Regions from separate parts of the Homo sapiens genome. Here region 1 is linked to region 2. The links come from fine-mapping of genetic effects on gene expression. A gene starts in region 2. The other region holds a variant in brackets. All regions are shown on one strand. Distances are from middle to middle. Region 1 has its middle 9.5 kb from the start of AP1M2. Region 2 holds the start of ACP5 (acid phosphatase 5, tartrate resistant).

Evidence for each region.
Region 1: its variant is fine-mapped to the expression of ACP5 in breast (GTEx, PIP 0.98).

The regions. Positions count from the first base shown.
Region 1 is chr19:10,591,844-10,601,856 of GRCh38, forward strand. It overlaps the pseudogene LSM2P1. Among named protein-coding and RNA genes, the nearest start is that of AP1M2, 9.5 kb to the left of the region's middle. RefSeq lists enhancers at 750-1,274, 1,801-2,325, 3,800-3,989. The variant C/T (reference allele first, on the strand shown) is at 4,940.
Region 2 is chr19:11,572,223-11,582,235 of GRCh38, forward strand. ACP5 (acid phosphatase 5, tartrate resistant) reads right to left here and starts at 5,423. Exons shown (of 5, transcript NM_001611.5): 1 at 5,371-5,423; 2 at 4,835-5,095; 3 at 4,494-4,621; 4 at 4,021-4,366; 5 at 2,438-3,030. The coding sequence starts at 5,095. The coding sequence ends at 2,788. LOC124904638 (a long non-coding RNA gene) reads left to right here and starts at 3,027. Exons shown (of 2, transcript XR_007067140.1): 1 at 3,027-3,131. RefSeq lists enhancers at 4,909-5,521, 5,522-6,133, 5,603-5,742, 9,562-9,761 and silencers at 6,693-6,882, 9,897-10,013.

The DNA.
Region 1 (10,013 bases), 980 kb before region 2:
GAGACAAGGACTTGCTTTGTCGCCCAGGCTGCGGTGCAGTGGTGCAAACACGGCTCACTGCAGCCTCAACCTTCTGAACTCAAGAGATCCTCTCACCTAGGCCTCTCCAGTAGCTGGGACTACAGGTGAGCAACACCACTCCCAGCTAATTTTTAAATTTTTTTTTTTTTTTTTTTTGAGACAGAGTCTTGCTCTGTCGCCCAGGCTGGAGTGCAGTGGCGCAATCTCGGCTCACTGCAACTTCCGCCTCACAGGTTCACACCCTTCTCCTGCCTCAGCCTCCGGAGTAGCTGGGACTACAGGCATCCGCCATCAAGCCCGGCTAATTTTTTTGTATTTTTAGTAGAGACGGGGTTTCACCGTGTTAGCCAAGATGGTCTCGATCTCCTGACCTCGTGATCCGCACACCTCAGCCTCTCAAAGTGCTGGGATTACAGGCGTGAGCCACCGTGCCTGCCCAATTTTTAAATTTTTTGTAGAGATGGGGTCTCGCTACGTTGCTCAAGCTGGTCTTGAGCTTCTGGCCTCAAGCTGTCCTCCCACCTCAGCCTTCCAAAACACTGAGATTACAGACACGAGTCACCTCCCCCAACTCTATTATCTTCATTTGACAGATAGGGAAACTGAGGCCTTGAGAGAGTAAGTGATTTGTACAATGTCATCCAGTCAGAAGAAGCAGAGCTGGGATTTGAGCTCTGGAAAGCACAAGGTTTTTTTGTTTTGTTTTGTTTTTTGTTTTGAGACAGAGTCTCGCTCTGTCGCCCAGGCTGGAGTGGAGTGGTGTGATCTTGACTCACTGCAACCTCCGCCTCACGGGTTCGAGTGATTCTTCTGTCTCAGCTTCCCAAGTAGCTGGGACCACAGGTTTGTGCCACTATGCCTGGCTAATTTTTGTATTTTTAGTAGAGATGGGGGTTCGCCATTTTGGCCAGGACGGTCTCAAACTCCTGACCTTGTGATCCGCCCGCATTGCACGTTGGCCTCCCAAAGTGCTGGGATTACAGGTTTGAGCCACTGCACCCGGACTTTTTTGTTTTTTGAGATGGAATTTCACTCTTGTTGCCCAGGCTGGAGGGCAATGGTGCAACCTTGGCTCACCATACCCTCCGCCTCCCAGGTTCAAGTGATTCTCCTGCCTCAGCCTCCCAAGTAGCTGGGATTACAGGCATGCACCACCATGCCTGGCTAATTTTGTATTTTTAGTACAGACAAGGTTTCTCCATGTTGGTCAGGCTGGTCTCAAACTCCCGACCTCAGGTGATCCACCCACCTCAGCCTCCCAAAGTGCTGGGATTACAGGGGTGAGCCATCGCACCTGGCCCTGATTATTATTATTATTATTATTATTATTTTTGAGGCAGGGTCTCTGTCACCCAGGCTGGAGTGCAGTGGTGTGATCTCAGCTCACTGCAACCTCCACCTCCCCAGGTTCAAGCAATCAAGCAATTCTCCCACCCCAGCCTCCTGCACAGCTGGGACCACAGGTGCGTGACCACCACATCCAGCTAATTTTTATACTTTTTGGTACAGACAGGTTTCACAATGTCGCCCAGGCTGGTCTCCAACTTGTGGACTTAAGTGGTCCACCCGCCTCGGCCTCCCACAGTGCTGGGATTATAGGCGTGAGCCATCTCGCCCAGCCTAAAGCCCAAGACTTTATGTTGCTTCTGCCCAAAGGAGGGGGGTGGTCCTTCATGCTCCCAGCAACTGCCTGCTGAGAAGGTCACCTAGGGGGATGCAGTCACTGCTAGGCCCTCACCCCAGCCTAGACATTGCTGAACCTCAAAATAACTCGTCTCCTGGCAGCCGGGCGTGGTGGCTCACGCCTGTAATCCTAGCACTTCGGGAGGCTGAGGTGGGTGGATCACCTGAGGTCAGGAGTTTGAGACCAGCCTGGCCAAAATGGTGAAACCCTGTCTGGACTAAAAATACAGAATTAGCCGGGGGTGGTAGCACATGCCTGTAATCCCACCTACTCAGGAGACTGAGGCAGGAGAATCACTTGAAACTGGGAGGCAGAGGTTGCAGTGAGCCAAGATTGCGCCATTGCACTCCAGCCTGGGGCAATAGAGTGAGACTCTGTCTCAAAAACAACAACAACAACAAAATGAAGAACTCATCTCCTGGGGCCCTGAGATGTTTTCAGGCAGTAAGCAGAACCCGAAAGCCTGGGCCCAGTGCCCTGGAATCTGAAACTCCAGGCTTGTTTGGCATGAAAAATTCATGAGCCCAAAAGCTTACTTGGGGTCAGAGAACAGAGCAGCTCTGTGTGCTGGCTCTGCCTGCCCCGCCTGCCCCACCTCAGTGGCGGCCTCCCCCATCCCCCTGAGGCTGTGGCCTTGTCCTAGTTCCTTCTGGATGCCTGGAGCCTCCTCCAGCCTCTCCCAGGGACCACGCCTCTAGGCCCTGTCCACAATCCCTTCTCCACACCACTAAAGAGATCTCTCTGAAACTCACAATTATTTTTTGACTCTCACTCTCACATCCTCTATGGCCCCCCATTGCCCTCCAACCACCCCCACCTGGCACAGTCAGACACCTGCTGACCTCTGCCACAGGACACCACCTGAACCTGCTGTCCCAGACACCCTAACTGCCCGAATTTCAGTTCCTCTCCTGCTGTCTCAAGCCATCCTCCCACCTCAGCCTCCCAAGTAGCTGAGACTATAGACACGTGCCACCACAGCTGGCCACCTTAGCCATTTTGAAGTGCACAGTTCGGTGGCATTAAGCACATTAATGGCCATGCAACCGTCACCACCATCCATCTCCAGAACTTTCTCATCTTCCCAAAGGAAAACTTCTCCCTATGAAACACTCCTTCTCCCTCTCCCAACCCCTGGCACCCACTCTTCTTCTTCTTCTTCTTCTCCTTTTCCTTCTCCTCCTCCTCCTTCTTCTTCTTCTTTTCTTTTTTTTATTTATTTTGAGATGGAGTCTCACCGTCACCGAGGCTTGAGTGCAGTGGCACAATCTCGGCTCACTGCAGCCTCCATCTCCTAGGTTCAAGCAGTTCTCCTGCCTCAGCCTCCTGAGTAGCTGGGATTACAGGCGCCCCCCACCACGCCCAGCTAATTTTATTTTTTTATATTTTATTTATTCATTTACTTTTATTATTTTATTATTATTTTTTTTTGAGACAGAGTCTCGCTCTGTTGCCCAGGCTGGAGTGCAGTGGCACGATCTCAGCTCCCTGCAAGCTCTGCCTCCCGGGTTCATGCCATTCTCCTGCCTCAGCCTCCCGAGTAGCTGGGACTACAGGTGCCTGCCACCACACCCGGCTAATTTTTGTATTTTTAGTAGAGGCAGGGTTTCGCCATATTGGCCAGGCTGGTCTCTTGGCCAAGCTGGTCTGGAACTCCTGACCTGGAGATGTGCCTGCCTCAGCCTCCCAAAGTGCTGGGATTATAGGCGTGAGCCGCCGCGCCCAGCTTTTTTTTCTTTTTTTTTTGAGACGGATTCTCACTTTGTCGCCCAGGGGCTGGAGTGCAGTGGCGCAATCTCAGCTAATTGCAACCTCCTCCTTCTCCTAGTTCAAGTGATTCTCCTGCCTCAGCCTCCCAAGTAGCTGGGATTACAGGCATCTGCCACCACGCTGGGCTAATTTTTGTATTTTTGGTAGAGACTGGGTTTCGCCATGTTGACTAGGCTGGTCTCAAACTCCTGACCTCAAGTGATCCACCCATCTCAGCCTCCCAATGTGCTGGGATTACAAGTGTAAGCCACCATGCCCAGCTACTCAGGAGTCTGAGGTGGGAGGATCACTGGAGCCCAGAAGATTGAGGCTGCAGTGAGCTATGGTTGCACCACTGCACTCCAGCCTCGGTGACAAAGCAAGAACCTATCTTAAGAAAATACTGTGCTGAGCCAGTTCCTGAGAAAACAAAATAGAAAACAAAACTAAAGAAAAGGCAAAAGTTCCTCCCAGCAGAGATGTGAGAGAAAAAGAAAAAAAAAGTCCCCTGTGACACCCCCATACCCCAATCTTCGTCCCTCTCATAACCACTGGCTGATTCAGATCTTTTTCAGCTGGGTTACATGCAGGGGGGTGTGTGTGTGTGTTTGTGTGTGTGTGTGTGTGTGTGTGTGTGTGTGCGCGTGTTGCCCTCTTTCTCTCTCTTTCTCCCATACCATATAAGACTATACAACTTGTGGATGGGCACAGTGGCTCTCACCTGTAATCCCAGAACTTTGGGAGGCAGAGGCGGGTGGGGCACTTGAGGCCAAGAGTTCAAGAGCAGCCTGGGCAACATGGCAAAAAATCTGTCTCTACTAAAAATATAAAAACTGGCCAGGTGTGGTGGCTCACGCCTGTAATCCCTGCACTTTGGAGGCTAAGGCAGGTGAATCACCTGAGGTCAGGAGTTTGAGACAAGCCTGGCCAACATGATAAAATCCTGTCTCTACTAAAAATACAAAAAATTAGCCAGGTATGCTGGCGGACACCTGTAATCCCAGCTACTCGGGAGGCTGAGGCAGGAGAATTGCTTGAACCCAGGAGGCAGAGGTTGCAGTGAGCCGAGATCATGCCACTGCACTCGAGCCTGGGTGACAGAACAAGAATCTGTCTCAAAAACAAAACAAAACAAAACAAACAAGCAACAACAACTATATATATATATATATATATGTATATAGACTAAGCTGGGCATGGTGGTGCGTACCTGAAATCCCAGCTACTCCAGAGGCTGAGGCACACAAATCACTTGAACCCAAGAGAAGGAGGTTTCAGTGAGCTGAGCTCGCACCACTGCACTCCAGCCTGGGCGACAGAGAGAGACTCTGTCTTAAATAAAAAAAAAAAAATACAACTTGCTATTATCACTCAACAATATGACCTGGACGCTACTCCGGAAAGCATGTGGTTGAAGGGGAAGGAAGTGTGTCTTGGGTGTAAAGTCGGACTCCCTGGGTTCAGATCCTTGCAGAGCCACGGGCT[C/T]ATTATGTTACTGTGGGTAAATTACTTCACCTCTCTGGGTCACTTTCCCCAATTGGAAAATGATTATAATGATTTAATACAGAGTGCTTGGGCCAGACGCGGTGTCTCACGCCTGTAATCCCAGCACTTTGGGAGGCCGAGGCGGTGGATCATGAGGTCAGGAGATTGACACCATCATGGCTAAGACAGTGAAACCCGTTCTTCACTAAAAATACAAAAAACTAGCTGAGCGTGGTGGTGGGTGCTGTAATCCCAGCTACTCAGAAGGCTGAGGCAGGAGAATTGCTTGAACCCGGGAGGCAGATGGTGCAGTGAGCTGAGATCACGCCACTGCACTCCAGCTTGGCGACAGAGTGAGACTCCATCTCAAAAACTAAAACAAACAACAACAACTATATACACACACACACACACACATACACACACAGAGAGCACTTTACTGGGTGAGCCAAGATCGCGCCACTGCCCTCCAGCAGCCTTGGTTCAAAAAAAAAAGGTGCTTGGCCAGCATGGTGGCTCATGCTTGTAATCCCAGCACTTCAAGAGGCCAAGATGGGCAGATCGATTGAGGCTAATGAGACCTGGTCTCTATTTCAAAAAAAAGAAAAAGAGTTAAAAAAATATATAAAGCATTTAATACCTTGTCTGACACTGACTAAGCTTTCTATAAACATTCACTCTTTCTTTCCTTTTTTTTTTTTTTGAGACCGAGTCTCGTTCTGTCACCCAGGCTGGTGTGCAATGGTGCACTCTTGGATCACTGCAACCTCTGACTCCCAGGTTCAAGTGATTCTCCTGCTTCAGCCTCCCAAGTAGCTGGGATTACATGCATGTGCCACCACACTCGGCTAATTTTGTATTTTTAGTAAAGACGGGATTTCTCCATGTTGGTCGGGCTGGTCTCGAACTCCCGACCTCAGGTGATCCGCCCGCCTCGGCCTCCCAAAGTGCTGGGATTACAGGTGAGAGCCACTGCGTCTGGCCTTAGAGACAGATTTTCATCGTGTTGTCCAGGCTAATCTTGAACTCCTGTCCTCAAGTGACCCTCCTGCCTCCCAGAGTGCTGGGATCACAGATGTGAGCCACCACTCCTGGCTGTAAACAGTCACTCTTATTATAATCTGCAGGACCACCACCTTTTTTCTTAAACTATTTTAAAAATTCTCATTTTGAAATGTAACTTTTTTATTTATTATGTATACAAACACACATATATATTTGCATCATAAATGTTATTCCCAATATGGGACAGATTCCTTTCAACCCCCAGGTGAATCACATGGTACCCTGGAAAGACCTAGGAAGCCCTCCCTCCCACCATCTCCAGGGAGGTAGTGAGAACGGCAGGTGCTGGGGACTGGGAAGGCTTTGGAGTTTCCCAGCCTACCTCTTCTCCCTTTCTCAACAAAGGATACCTGTTCCCTATTATTCCCCTTATCCACTCTTCCCTTTTTTAAAAAAAACCCACAAAACCATCATTAGTAAAAAAACAAACAAAACCCCTTCAAGTATTGGGAGTTAGGGGTCCTGGGCTGGGACTTGGAGTTACAGGTCACCAAGGAAGAGGGAAGGGAAGAGAAGGAGGGGCTGTCACTTACTACTGCTGGCTTTCTTCCTTGCTGCATGCTATGGCAACTGTGTGTCGACCTCCTTTGCTGGCAACTGCACGTATGGGACCACTGAGCCCGGAATGAAACAGTCCTTTTTAAAAAACTTTTTTTGAGACAGAGTCTCGCTCTGTCACCCAGGCTGGAGTGCAGTGGCATGATTTCAGCTCACTGCAGCCTCCACCTCCCGGGTTCCAGCAACTCTCCTGCCTCAGCTTCCCGAGTAGCTGTGAATACAGGCGCCCGCCACCACATCCGGCTAAGTTTTGTATTTTAGTAGAGATGGGGTTTTGCCATGTTGGCCAGGCTGGTCTCAAACTCCTGACCTCAGGTGATCCACCTGCCTTGGCCTCCCAAAGTGCTGGGGTTACAGGTGTGAGCCACTGCACCCAGCCTAGAAGTTCTTCACTGATAAAATGTGAGGATATTTCTCAAGGTGTGTGATACTGATGTCAGCTCATTTGATGTTGAGATACTGATCCACCGAATGGAGGGTGCCACAGATGTTCAGGTCTTTCTTGAGTTCCATGACCACATTCATGCCCACAAGGGACTTGAAAAAAGGAATAGAAGAGCATGATGCTGGCGACCTGACCAGGAAGAGCAACACATATTTTATTTTATTTATTTATTTATTTGAGATGCTGTCTCACTCTTTCACCCAGGCCGGAGTGCAGTGGTGCAATCTTGGCTCACTGCGACCTCTGCCTCCCGGGGTCAAGCAATTCTCTGCCTCAGCCTCCTGAGGAGCTGGGATTACAGGCGCCCGCCGCCACGCCCGTCTAATTTTTTTTTTTTTTTGTATTTTTAGTAGGGACCAGGTTTCACCAAGTTAGTCAAGCTGGTCTTGAACTCCTGACCTTGTGATCCACTCAACTCAGCTTCCCAAAGTGCTGGGATTACAGGCGTGAGCCACCGTGCCGGGCCAGCAACACATATTTTAAAAGGGCAGAAGTCGGTTGGGCACAGCGGCTTACACCTGTAATCCCTGCACTTTGGGAGGCTGAGGTTGGTGGATCACCTGAGATCAGGAGTTCGAGACCAGCCTGGGCAACATGGCGAAACCCCGTCTCTACTAAAATACAAAAATTGCCACTGTACTCCAGCTTGGGCAACAGAGCAAGATTCTGTCTCAGAAAAAAAAGGCAGGCAGAGTACGGGGGAGAAGGTCAAGTATTCACAAACTAAACTAAGCTATGTAACTACAATTCTGTTTCCAGTGCCCAGAAGCTGCTCCTATCATCCCAGTAGTTATTACTACCCCAAAAGTCAACCACTGATATATGTTCTGTTACTATAGGTTGATTAGCTATGCCTGTTCTTGAACTTCAGAAAAAAGTGTGTGGTTTCTTTCACACAACATTATGCTTTTTGGGGAGAGATTCATCCATATTTTTGCCTGTATCAATAGTTTATTCCTGGACCAGGCGCTGTGGCTCACACCTGTAATCTCAGCACTCTAGGAGGCTGAGGCAGAAGGATCACTTGAGACCAGCCTGGGCACCCATAGGGAGACCCTCATCTCCACAAAAATTTAAAAAATTAGCCGAGTATGTCCAGGTGCGGTGGCTCATGCCTATAATCCCAGCACTTTTGGAGGCTGAGGGGGGCGGATCACCTGAGGTCGGGAGTTCCAGACCAGCCCGACCAACATAGAGAAACCCCGTCTCTACTAAAAATACAAAATTAGCCAGGCGTGGTGGTGCATGCCTGTAATCCCGGCTACTCAGAGACTAAGGCAGGAGAATCACTTGAACTTGGGAGACGGAGGTTGCGGTGAGCTGAGATCACACCATTGCACCATTGCACTCCAGCCTGAGCAACAAGAGTGAAACTTTGTCAAAAAAAGAAAGAAAGAAAGAAATTAGCCAGGCATGATAGTGTGTGCCTGTAGTCCCAGCAACGGGAGGCTGAGGCAGGAGGATCACTTGAGCTGAGGAGGTCAGGGCTTCAGTCAGCTATGACTGCACCATCGCAATCCAGCCTGGGCAATACAGCAAGATCCTGTCCCTAAAAAAAGAAAGAAGAAAACATTCATTCCTCATCACTAAGGAGAATCCCATGGTATGGGTGAAACCCACCATGGTTTGCTTCACCAATGATCTGTTAATGGGCATTTGGGCTGCTCCTAGTTTTTTTGCCCACTACGAATAAGGATACTATAAGGCTATCATGAACATTTATATGAATGTGTCTGTGGGTTTTTCTTTTCTTCACTTATACTTTTTCTTGGGTATATACCTAGAAGTGCAATTTCTAGGGTATTAACTTTGCAAGAAACTGCCAGATCGTTTTCCAACTGGTTGTGGCATTTTACATTCTCACCAACAGTGTAGGAGAGCCCCCATATGCTTCCCATCTTCCTCAACACTTGGTTCGACCAGTCTTTTTAATTTTAGCTATTCAGGTGGGTGTGCAATGATATCTCATCGAGGTTTTGATTTACATTTCCCTGATGACTTCGTGCTTTATTCTTTTTTCTTTCTTTCTTTCTTTTTTTTTTTTTTTTTGAGACAGGGTCTCACTCTGTCACCCAGGCTGGAGTGCAGTGATGTTTTCACCCATTTTTCTTTCTTTTTTTTTTTCTTTTTGAGACAGAGTTTCGCTTTTTGCCCAGTTCTGTTGCCCAGTTTGGAGTGCAATAGCGTCATCTCAGCTCACCGCAACCTCCACCTCCTGGGTTCAAGCGATTCTCCTCCTCAGCCTCCAGAGTAGCTGGGATTACAGGCATGTGCCACCACACCAGGCTAATTTTTTGTATTTTTAGTAAAGACAGGGATTCTCCATGTTGGTCAGGCTGGTCTCGAACTCCCGACTTCAAGTGATCCGCCCGCCTCGGCCTCCCAAAGTGCTGGGATTACAGGCGTGAGCCTCCGCACCCGGCCTGTTTTCACCCATTTTTTCCACAATAACTGTCAAGGCTGCAGGGAACACCCCTTGGTTACTACATCCCATGCACACACACCTGCAGTGGTTTGTCCAGGGTCAGTGCCAGACAGGAATCGCACCAGGTGAACATGACTTGGATATACTCTTTCTGCCAGGAAACATTCTGCTTCAAAGTATTCACTCACCTGATTTTATGTTATTAAACTCTAAAATTCTTACCAATCTGATGAATGAAAATGGCATCTTTTGGTATGTTCAGTGGTACACGGTGATCAATATTTACCTATCAATTATTTATCTATCCATCTTCTATTATTATTTTTATTTTATTTTATTTTATTTTATTTTTTGAGACGGAGACGGAGTGTCGCTCTGTCGCCCAGGCTGGAGTGCAGTGACACGGTCTCGGCTCACTGCAAGCTCCGCCTCCCGGGTTCACGCCATTCTCCTGCCTCAGCCTCCCGAGTAGCTGAGATTACAGGTGCCCGCCACCACTCCCGGCTAATGTTTTGTATTTTTAGTAGAGACGGGGTTTCACCGTGTTAGCCAGGATGGTCTCGATCTCCTGACCATCTTCC
Region 2 (10,013 bases):
GGTGTAAAAAATGGGAATGTGTTTGCAGTGGCATGCCCCTGTAATCTCATCTACTCGGGAGGCTGAGATGGATCACTTGAGCCCAGGAGCTCAAGACCAGCCTGGGCAACATAGCAAAACTCTGTCTCTGAAAAACAGTCTGGAAGCAATAGCTCATGCCTGTAATCCCAACACTTTCGGAGGCTGAGGCAGGAGGATTGCTTGAGCCCAGGAGTACAAGACCGGTTTGGGCAACAGAACAAGACTCCCATCTCTACAAAAAAAAAAAATCTAAAAATTAGTTAGGAGTGGTGGTGCGTGCCTGTAGTCCTAGCTACTTGAGAGGCTAGGGTGGGAGGATTTCTTGAGCCCAGGAGTTTGAGGCTGCAGGGAGCTATGATTGCACCACTGCACTCCAGCCTGGACAATATAGCAAGACCCCTCTCCCTAAAGAAATAATAGGCCGGGCACGGCGGCTCACGCCTGTAATCCCAACACTTTGGGAGGCTGAGGCGGGCAGGTCATGAGGTCAGGAGATTGGGACCATCCTGGCCAACATGGTGAAACCCCATCTCTACTAAAAATACAAAAATTGCCAGGCGCGGTGGCTCACTCCTGTAATCCCAGCACTTTGGGAGGCTGAGGCAGGCGGATCACGAGGTCAGGAGATTGAGACCATCCTGGCTAACACGATGAAACCCCATCTCTATTTAAAAATACAAAAAACGAGCCGGGTGTGGTGGCAGACGCCTGTAATCCCAGCTACTTGGGAGGCTGAGGCAGGAGAATGGTGTGAACCCGGGAGGCAGAGCTTGCAGTGAGCCGAGATCACGCCGCTGCACTCCAGCCTGGGCGACAGAGCAAGACTCCATCTCAAAAAAAAAAAAAAAAAAAAAAAAAATTAGCTGGGCGTGGTGGCGCGTGCCTATAATCCCAGCTACTCAGGAGGCTGAGCCAGGAGAATTGCTTGAATCTGGGAGTTGGAGGTTTCAGCGAGCCGAGCTCACGCCACTGCACTCCAGCCTGGTGACAGAGTGAGACTCCATCTCAAAAAAAAAAAAAAAGAAAAAAAAAAGAAAATAATAAAGGGAATGTTTTGATTATGGAGGCATAGACTATATAGAGAAAGAAAATGATTAATATTAGTTGCCCCTGGGGTGGAGGAAGACTTGCTTTATGTTGTACCCTTCTTTCTGCTTGGATTTTATTGAATTAATTTTTTTTTTGAGACAGAGTCTTGCTCTATCACCCAGGCTGGAGTGCAGTGGCACAATCTCAGCTCACTGCAATCTCCGCCCTCACCTCTCCACCCCCTTTACCCGCAAACCCCCTAGGCTCAAGTGATTCTCTCGCCTCAGCCTCCCAAGTAGCTGGGATTACAGTCATGTGTCACCACGCCTAGATAAGTTTTGTATTTTTAGTAGAGATGGGGTTTCACCATGATGGCCAGGCTGGTCTTGAACTTCTGACCTCAAGTGATCCGACCACCTAGGCCTTGCAAAGTGCTGGCATTACAGGTGTGAGCCATCGTGCCTGGCCTATTTTATTTACTTATTTTTTTTGAGACAGATTCTTGCTCTGTCACCCAGGCTGGAGTACAGTGGCACAATCTCAGCTCATTGCAACCTCCGCCTCCTGGGTTCAAGCAATTCTCCTGCCTCAGCCTCCTGAGTAGCTAGGACCATAGGCTCCTGCCACCACAACTGGCCAATTTTTTTTTTTCAGGCAGAGTTTAACTCTTGTTGCCCAGGCTGGAGTGCAGTGGCGCAATCTTGACTCACTGCAGCCTCCACCTCCCAGATGCAAGTGATTCTCCTGCCTCAGACTCCCAAGTAGCTGGGATTACAGGCACTCGCCAGCAAGCCTGACTAACTTTTTGTATTTTTAGTGGACATGGGGTTTCACTATGCTGGCCAGGCTGATCTTGAACTCCTGACCTCAAATAATCCACCCGCTTTGGCCTCCCAAAGTGCTGGGATTACAGATGTGAACCACTGAGCCTGGCCTCTGCTTGGATTTTATTTTTTTTTTATTTTTTATTTTTTTGAGATGGAGTCTCGCTCTTTCACCCAGGCAGGAGTGCAGTGGCGCTATCTTGGCTCACTGCAAGCTCCGCCTCCTGGGTTCACACTATTCTCCTGCCTCAGCCTCCCAAGTAGCTGGGACTACAGGCACCCGCCGCCACGCCTGGCTAATTTTTTTGTAGTTTTAGTAGAGACGGGGTTTCACCATGTTAGTCAGGATGGTCTCGATCTCCTGACCTCGTGATCCGCCCACCTCGGCCTCCCAAAGTGCTGGGATTACAGGTGTGAGCCACCGTGCCTGGCCGGGTTTTATAATCACATCCATGGATAAGGCAACTTGGTCATGGATGGGGTAAGAGATGGAGGCAAGGAACAGCAGCTCAGGGGAGCCCAGCCACTCTAACCAGGAGAACATAACACACCAGTGGCACTGGTTCAGCCTTGGCAACTATTCTTTTATTGAACATCAGTAACAGAAAGATGCTTGATTTAGGAGGAAGCTTTCCCTCCCTCCCTCCCCCATTGCACCCCGGAACTCAGCAAAGGTGAGCCAGCCACAGAGCATAACACTGTGGCTGGGACACATGTCCATGTGTGTTTCACATACGTGGGCATCTGTGCCACAAGGGTCATGTGGCACCACAGTTCATCAGCTGTGTTTCCCCTTCCTGCCCTGCTGCAGCGCCACAGGTTGGAGGAAAAGCCTGCCTGTGAGCAGGGTCCCGGCAGGGCCCACCCACCCAACAGTGGAGATCGGGCCTCAGAGCTGGGCAGTCATGGGAGTTCAGGGCCTGGCTCGCCTCGGCAGCCTGGTCTTAAAGAGGGACTTGCCCGAGGCCTCGATGTAAGTGACAGTCATCTCTTTGGAGCTGATCTCCACATAGGCAAAGCCACCCAGTGAGTCTTCAGTCCCATAGTGGAAGCGCAGATAGCCGTTGGGGACCTTGCGCTGGTGCCGCTTTGAGGGGTCCATGAAATTCCCAGCCCCACTCAGCACGTAGCCCACGCCATTCTCATCTTGCAGGTACTGAGGATGGAGGACAAGGGGTCAGTGGAGACCCAGCTTTGAGCAGAGCCCTGCCTAAGGTCCAGGGCTCGATCTGGCCCTAACCACAGAGTCACCTTGAGGTATGTAACCCCTCCTGGCTTCAATTTCCTGACTTTTAGGAGTGTATTAATCCTATTTCATAGGTAGAGCACTTAGTAAGAAATTGGTGGCCAGGTGTGGTGGCTCATGCCTGTAATCCCAGCACTTTGGGAGGCTGAGGGGGTGGATTGCTTGAGCCCAGGAATTTGAGACCAGCCTGGGCAACATAGTGAGACCTTGCCTCTACAAAAAAAATGCGCAAGGGCCAGGTGCAGTGGCTCATGCCTATAATCCCAGCACTTTGGGAGGCCGAGGCGGGCAGATCACTTGAGGTCAGAAGTTCGAGATCAGCCTGGCCAACATGGTGAAACCCCGTCTCTACTAAAATATAAAAATTAGCAAGGTTTGGTGGCCCATGCTTGTAATCCCAGCTACTTGGGAGGCTGAGACAGGAGAATTGCTTGAACCCAGGAGGCGGAGGTTGCAGTGAGTTGAGATCGTGCCACTGCACTCCCTCTCAAAAAAAAAAAAAAAAGCAAAAATTAGCTGCATGTGGTGGCCCATGCCTGTAGTGTCAGCTACTCTGGAGGCTGAAGTGGGAGGTTCACCTGAGCCCGGGAGATTGAAGCTGCAGTAAGCCCCGATTGCACCACTGCACTCCAGCCTGGGTGAAAAACAATGAAACCTTGTCTCCAAAAAAAAAAAAAAAAAAGAGCTTAAAAAAGAAAGAAAGAAAGAAATTGGCAATTCGAAGATATTATTCTGGCTTTGGAGTGTTTTCCTGGTTAGACAGCAAGATTTGAGGGACAGTCTAGACATTCTGAAGGCCACAGGAGACCCTCAAACAGCAGGAGGACCCCAGCCATGTGGACATCAGCTGGGATGGGGACCCCCCTCACCCAGCTCCCACCCCACCCACAGGGCCCTCACCTGCAGATTGTGATCGTGGCCGCACAGGTAGGCAGTGACCCCGTATGTGGCCAGCAGTGGCCGTAGCTGCTTGACCAGGCAGTGGGTAGGCCCGTGCTCGGCTATGGACCACACGGGGTAGTGGCCAGCCACCAGCACGTAGTCCTCCCTGGCCGCCGCCAGCTGTTTCTTGAGCCAGGACAGCTGTGTGCGGGCCAGCTTCACGTCTCGGGGCCTCTCAGGCTGCTGGCTGAGGAAGTCATCTGAGTTGCCACATAGTGTCACTGTGTCCAGCATAAAAATGGCCACAGACACATTGGTCTGTGGGATCTTGAAGTGCAGGCGGTAGAAAGGGCTGGGGAAGTTCCTGTGGAGGGGATAGAGGTCGTGGGTGCACATCTTGGGCGCAGAAGTCCCAGGGTCAGCTCAAGCCACAGGGCCCCTGTGTCCCTGCTATGTGAGGATCTCGGAAGGCAGGGCTGAGGGTGGCTCACCAGCGCTTGGAGATCTTAGAGTATGCAATCTGGGCAGAGACATTGCCAAGGTGGTCATGGTTTCCGGCTAGCACGTACCAGGGCACTTTGCGAAGGGAGCGGTCAGAGAATACGTCCTCAAAGGTCTCCTGTAGCAAACAGATAGGGCAGGCCTCTTCCCTGGGGTCAGTGGCTATGCCGATCCTCCCACCAAGTCAGGATAAGGGAGACACTGAATGCTCCCGGCGCCCAAAGGTGCCCCATCACCTTCCCTCTGCCCTCACCAAAGGAAGGTCACTAGGTAAGGCGGCTTCTCCCCACTGCCCGCCCCCACCTCCTGCCCCACTCTGTTGGGCACAGACCTGGAACCTCTTGTCATTGATGTCTTGCACACCAGTGAAGTAAAAATTGTCCCCTAGAGACAGGATGAAGTCTGCACCCAGGATCTGCACAGTCCGAGCGATCTCCTTGGCATTGGCCATTTCCCGGGCCGTGTGGAATGGGGCATTGGGGACCCCTCCCCAGTCACCCACGGCTACAAAGCGCAGGGCAGGGGTGGCACCATCAGCCAGGGAGGGTAGCAACAAGGCTTGCAGGATGAGCAGCGCCGTCCACATGTCCATCTGGGAGAAGAGAGACAAGCATAGGTGGCCCGGGCTGTGACAAGGGCAGGGAGGCCTTGAGACCCCCGCCTGCCCTGAGATAGAGGGAGACTGCTTGCTGCAGGCTGCCCCTGCGGGAACCCCTTGGTGCCCTAATTCTCAGGACACACAAGCTGCACAAGGCTGCACAAGCTGGCTTAGGGAAGGGGGGCGCGGTCTGTGAGAGGGCGAGCTGTACCAAGATGGCCCTGCAGGCCCATTTCACCCTCCTTCCACCTAGCCTGCCCAGCACTCACCCAGGGGGAGACACAGGCCAGTCACCGGAGGCTCTGAGAGGCTGGTGGGCTCTAGAGTAGAACTGCCGGTCCCTGAGCCTTTATTCCCTGAGGAGGAAGTGGATCATTAGTGAGGATGATGCAGTTTCTCCGAGGGCTGTCCCGGGAGCCCTCCCCTTGGGTCATGTGAGCCCTGGACTTCCCTGGAGCAGGACACGGGATTGGGGTGGGGGTGGGAGGATCTGGGCACACGTGTGCAGCAGCCTCGGCCCACACAGCCTCCGGGTGGACCTGCAGGGGCCTGTTTGTGCTGTAGGCTTGACACGTCCAGGTATCTCTGTGTGTCTGTGTATCTCAGTGTGAGTGTGTGTGTGTGTGCACACTTGAGAGGCTGTGGCTGTGATTACCCAAGACACATCTCCTGCACCTTCTTTCTCTGAGTAAGGGCTTACCTGTGTGTGTCTGGGTGTGTCTTGCTTCCTGCGTGCAGCTGAGCATGCCTACCTGGGCCTCGGCTCTGTACCTGATGGTGTTGCTGCAGACATGTATGCTGAGCCTGCGAGGCCTGTGTGGCTTGTCTGCGATGCACGCCTGTGTTCTCACGTGGCACTGGGTGGGAATCCCTATGGATGGAGTTTTGTGTGTGTCCATGTGTGTGTGCCTGGGTTGCATCTCTAGGATGGGTTGCGTGTCTGGTGTGGGAGCTGTGTTTGACAACATCTGGGTGGGGGACTCCGCGTGTGTCCCCGTCCTCCCCCTGCCCTCTCTCCATCCCACACATAAACACCAACGGGCTTCCCTTTTCCAGGAAGTCCTGCCCACACCCTCCCCTCCCCCCAGACTCCCATTCCTGCAGGAGGAACCAGGCAGGAGGCAGCTAGCTGGTGATAGCGCGCGTGACCACAGACCTCTGACCCTCATAGTCTCAGCAGCTGTCTGCAGGCCCTCCACGGGACCGCAGCCTGGGAGGGCAGGAGGCCCTGCACCTGCGGCCGGTCTGACCTGCTCCTCACCTCCCTGCCTGCCTCCTCCGTGCTGGGCGCCGCCGCGACACGTCCCGCGGACATTCAGGAGTCCCTTCAGTCCCTGCGAGCGCGGACCCGGGAGAGAGCTCTCATTCAACGCTGAGGCCACTGGCTCACAGATCTCCCCGGGTCACCCTGCGAAGTGCTTGGTCCCCCCCATTCCCAGCCCTGCAGCAGCAACAAACGGGAAGGAAGTGGGTGACGAGGACAGGCAGAGACCCCTCCCACGGGGCCGCCCGCATCTCACCTGCCGTCGCGGGGCGGGCGTTGCGGCCGGTGCCCAGCTGCAGATCCGCAGGCGATCGCACTCCTGGCGGCCCCAGCTTTAAGCAGGCAGCGGCCGATCCGCCCTGCTCGAGGGCTCAGGGCTGACCCAGGTGAGCCCCGGCGGGGAGGGCGGGCGCCTCGGCCTCCCCGCCCCGGAACCCTGCACCGCCCAGAGCCGCCACGCCTCCCGGCTGTAGGCTCCGCATCTGTAAAATGGGCCGATGAACCCCAAGGGTCGGCTCAGACCCACGGACTGCAGCTGCAGCTGGGCTAGAAGGGGTGGCCAGGGGAGCCGATTTCATCCTTTTCCTTCCTCCACGCCAACCAGGAGCCTCCATCTGCCTGGGACCCTTTGGGGGCACCCATGGGCCCACAGCCGCAGAACCACAGCACTGGGTGGGGTTTCAGCCCTGGGGCCAAGCTCTTGTGAGGTCTGTCATCATCTTCTCCTGTTGTTTTGTTTTTTTGTTTGTTTGTTTGTTTGGTTTTTTTTTTTTTGAGACAGAGTCTCGCTCTTTCACCCAGGCCGGACTGCAGTGGCGCGATCTCGGCTCACTGCAAGCTCTGCCTCCCGGGTTCTCGCCATTCTCCTGCCTCAGCACCCCCGAGTAGCTGGGACTACGGGCGCCGCCACCGCGCCCGGCTAATTTTTTGTATTTTTTAGTAGAGACGGGGTTTCACCGTGTTAGCCAGGATGGTTTCGATCTCCTGACCTCGTGATCCACCCACCTTGGCCTTCCAAAGTGCTGGGATTACAGGCGTGAGCCACCGCGCCCGGCCTGTTTTTGTTTTTTTTTTTTTTGAGACAGTTTTATTCTGGTTGCCCAGGCTGGAGTGCAGTGGCGCAATCTTGGCTCACGCAACCTCCGCCTCCCGGGTACAAGCGATTCTCCTGCCTCAGCCTCCCTAGTAGCTGTGATTACAGGCACGCACCACCACGCCCGGCTAATTTTGTATTTTTAGTAGAGACGGGGTTTCTCCATGTTGGCCAGGCTGGTCTCCAATGCCCGATCTCAGGTGATCTGCCCACCTCAGCCTCCCAAAGTTCTGCGATTACAGGCGTGAGTCACCATGCCTGGCCAGTCTCCTGTTTTTTTAAAAACTTATTATTTAGCCGGTGTGGTGTCTCACACCTGTAATCCTGGCACTTTGGGAGGCCGAGGTGAGCGGATCACTTGAGGTCAGGTGTTCCAGACCAGCCTGGGCAACATGGCAAAACCTTGTCTCTACTAAAAAGACAAAAATTAGCTGGAGGTGCTCTCTTGAACCCAGGAGGCAGAGGTTGCAGTGAACTGAGATCATGCCACTGCACTCCAACCCAGGAGGAGGAGGTTGCACTGAGCCAATATCATGCCACTACATTCCAGCCTGGGCGACAGAGCAAGACTCTGTCCCCCCCAAAAAAAAAACAGAAAAAAAAAAAAAGAAAGAAATCTGAAGCAATTATGACCAAATGTTAACATCTGTTTCTTCACGTGGTGGGTACAGGCGTGTTTTGGAAGCTTCTATGCTTCCTGTATTTTGAGATCACACAAAATTATGTTTATTATCTTATTGTGCTACATGATCTTTGTAGAAAAGTTGGTAAATTCTGGAATGCACGAAGAAAAAGATTATAATAGCCAGTAATACCCCTGCCCAGAGAGACAGTATCCATTAATTTTTCTCTGCCTATGTTTGTCTTCGGAAAAATGGGATACTATTGGCACTATTTTATAACTTTTTAATTTGTATTAACACTTTCTATATTTTTTAAATTGAAAAAGCTGGCCAAGCATGGTGGCTCAGGCCTGTAAACCCAGCCAATGTGGGAGGATCGCTTGAGCCCGGGAGTTCAGGAACAGCCTGGGCATCGTGGCGAGACCACATTGCTACAAAAAAAAAAAAAAAAAAAAAAAAAATTAGCCAGGCATGGTGGTGCACACCTGTGGTTCCATCTACTCAGGAAGCTGAGGTGGAGGATCGCTTGAGCCTGGGAGTTTGAGGCTGCAATAAGCTACGAATGCACCACTGACCTTCAGCCTGGGCAACACAGCTAGACTCTTGTCTCAGAGAGAGAGAGAGAGAGAGAGAGAGAGCACAATGAAAAAAATAAACCTGATCTTGCACAGAGCATGTAATAAAACCTGTGCGTTCTTGGCTATCTCTCTCTGGTCTCCTCCAGGGTGCTGAATAAGCTCTTCTCTCTCCATTCACCCAGGAGAACTCTCTTCTGCTGATTTTCTGTGGAGCTAGATCAGGCTGTGACTCAGAATCTCCCTCCACCTCCACCCTTTCCTATTTTCCCAACACCAGTGTCAATCTCAGATGTCAACAACCCCACGAGTGAGTTCCTCCTGTTGCCAATACATCCAGGTCCTGTTCTCCGCTGCTGTCTCTACCCAATCCCTTCCCTTCCTTCCTCCTGCCAATCCTGCTTTCCCTGTTTCTTGCTCCTCTGACCTCCTCCGCATTGCTTGACTGTCTCAGATACACTCTGGCCTCAGGGTCTTGGCACTTTCTGTTCTCCCTGCCTGGAAGGGTCTTCCTTAGTCAGATACTGAGGTCACCCATTGTGTTCAAGTTCCTTTAATTTATCTGAAATGAGTCTGGGCGTGGTGGCTCACGCCTGTAATCCCAGCACTTTGGGAAGCCAAGCCGGGTGGATCACTTGAGGCCAGGAGTTCGAGACCAGCCTGGCCAACATGGTGAAACCCCATCTCTACTAAAAATACAGAAATTAGCTGGGCGTGGTGGCACAAACCTGTGGTCCCAGCTACTCAGGAGGTCGAGGCAGGAGAATTGCTTGAACCTGGGAGGCGGAGGTTGCAGTGAGCCAAGATCGTGCCACTGTACTCTAGCCTGGGTGACAGAGTGAGACTCTGTCTCAAAAAAAAAAAAAAAAAAAGAAAAAGATAATTTATCTGAAATTATCTGAAATGCACCACCCTGCCCCCATCATTGACTCTCCTGTTGCTGTAGTTTTCTCTGCAGCACTTACCAGTGCTTGAGAAAACCACCCACTCATTTATCTTGCTTTCAGTTTCTCTTGCTTTCAGTCTGTCTTCAGTTAATGAAAGCTTTTTTTTTCTTTCTTTTTTCTTTTTCTAAAACAGAGTCACCCAGGCTGGAGACCAGTGATGCGATCACGGCTCACTGCAGACTCGACCTTCTGGGCTCAGGGGATCCTCCCACACCCCTTGGCCTCCTGGGGATTGAGACTACAGGCACACACCACCACACCCAGCTAATTTTTGTATTTTTTGTAGAGAGAGGGATTTGTCACCTTGTCCAGGCTGCTCTTGAACTCCTGAGTTCAAGCAATCCTCCCAACTCAGCCCCTCAAAGTGCTGGGATTACAGGTGTGAACCACTGCCCCTGGCCTGTTTATTT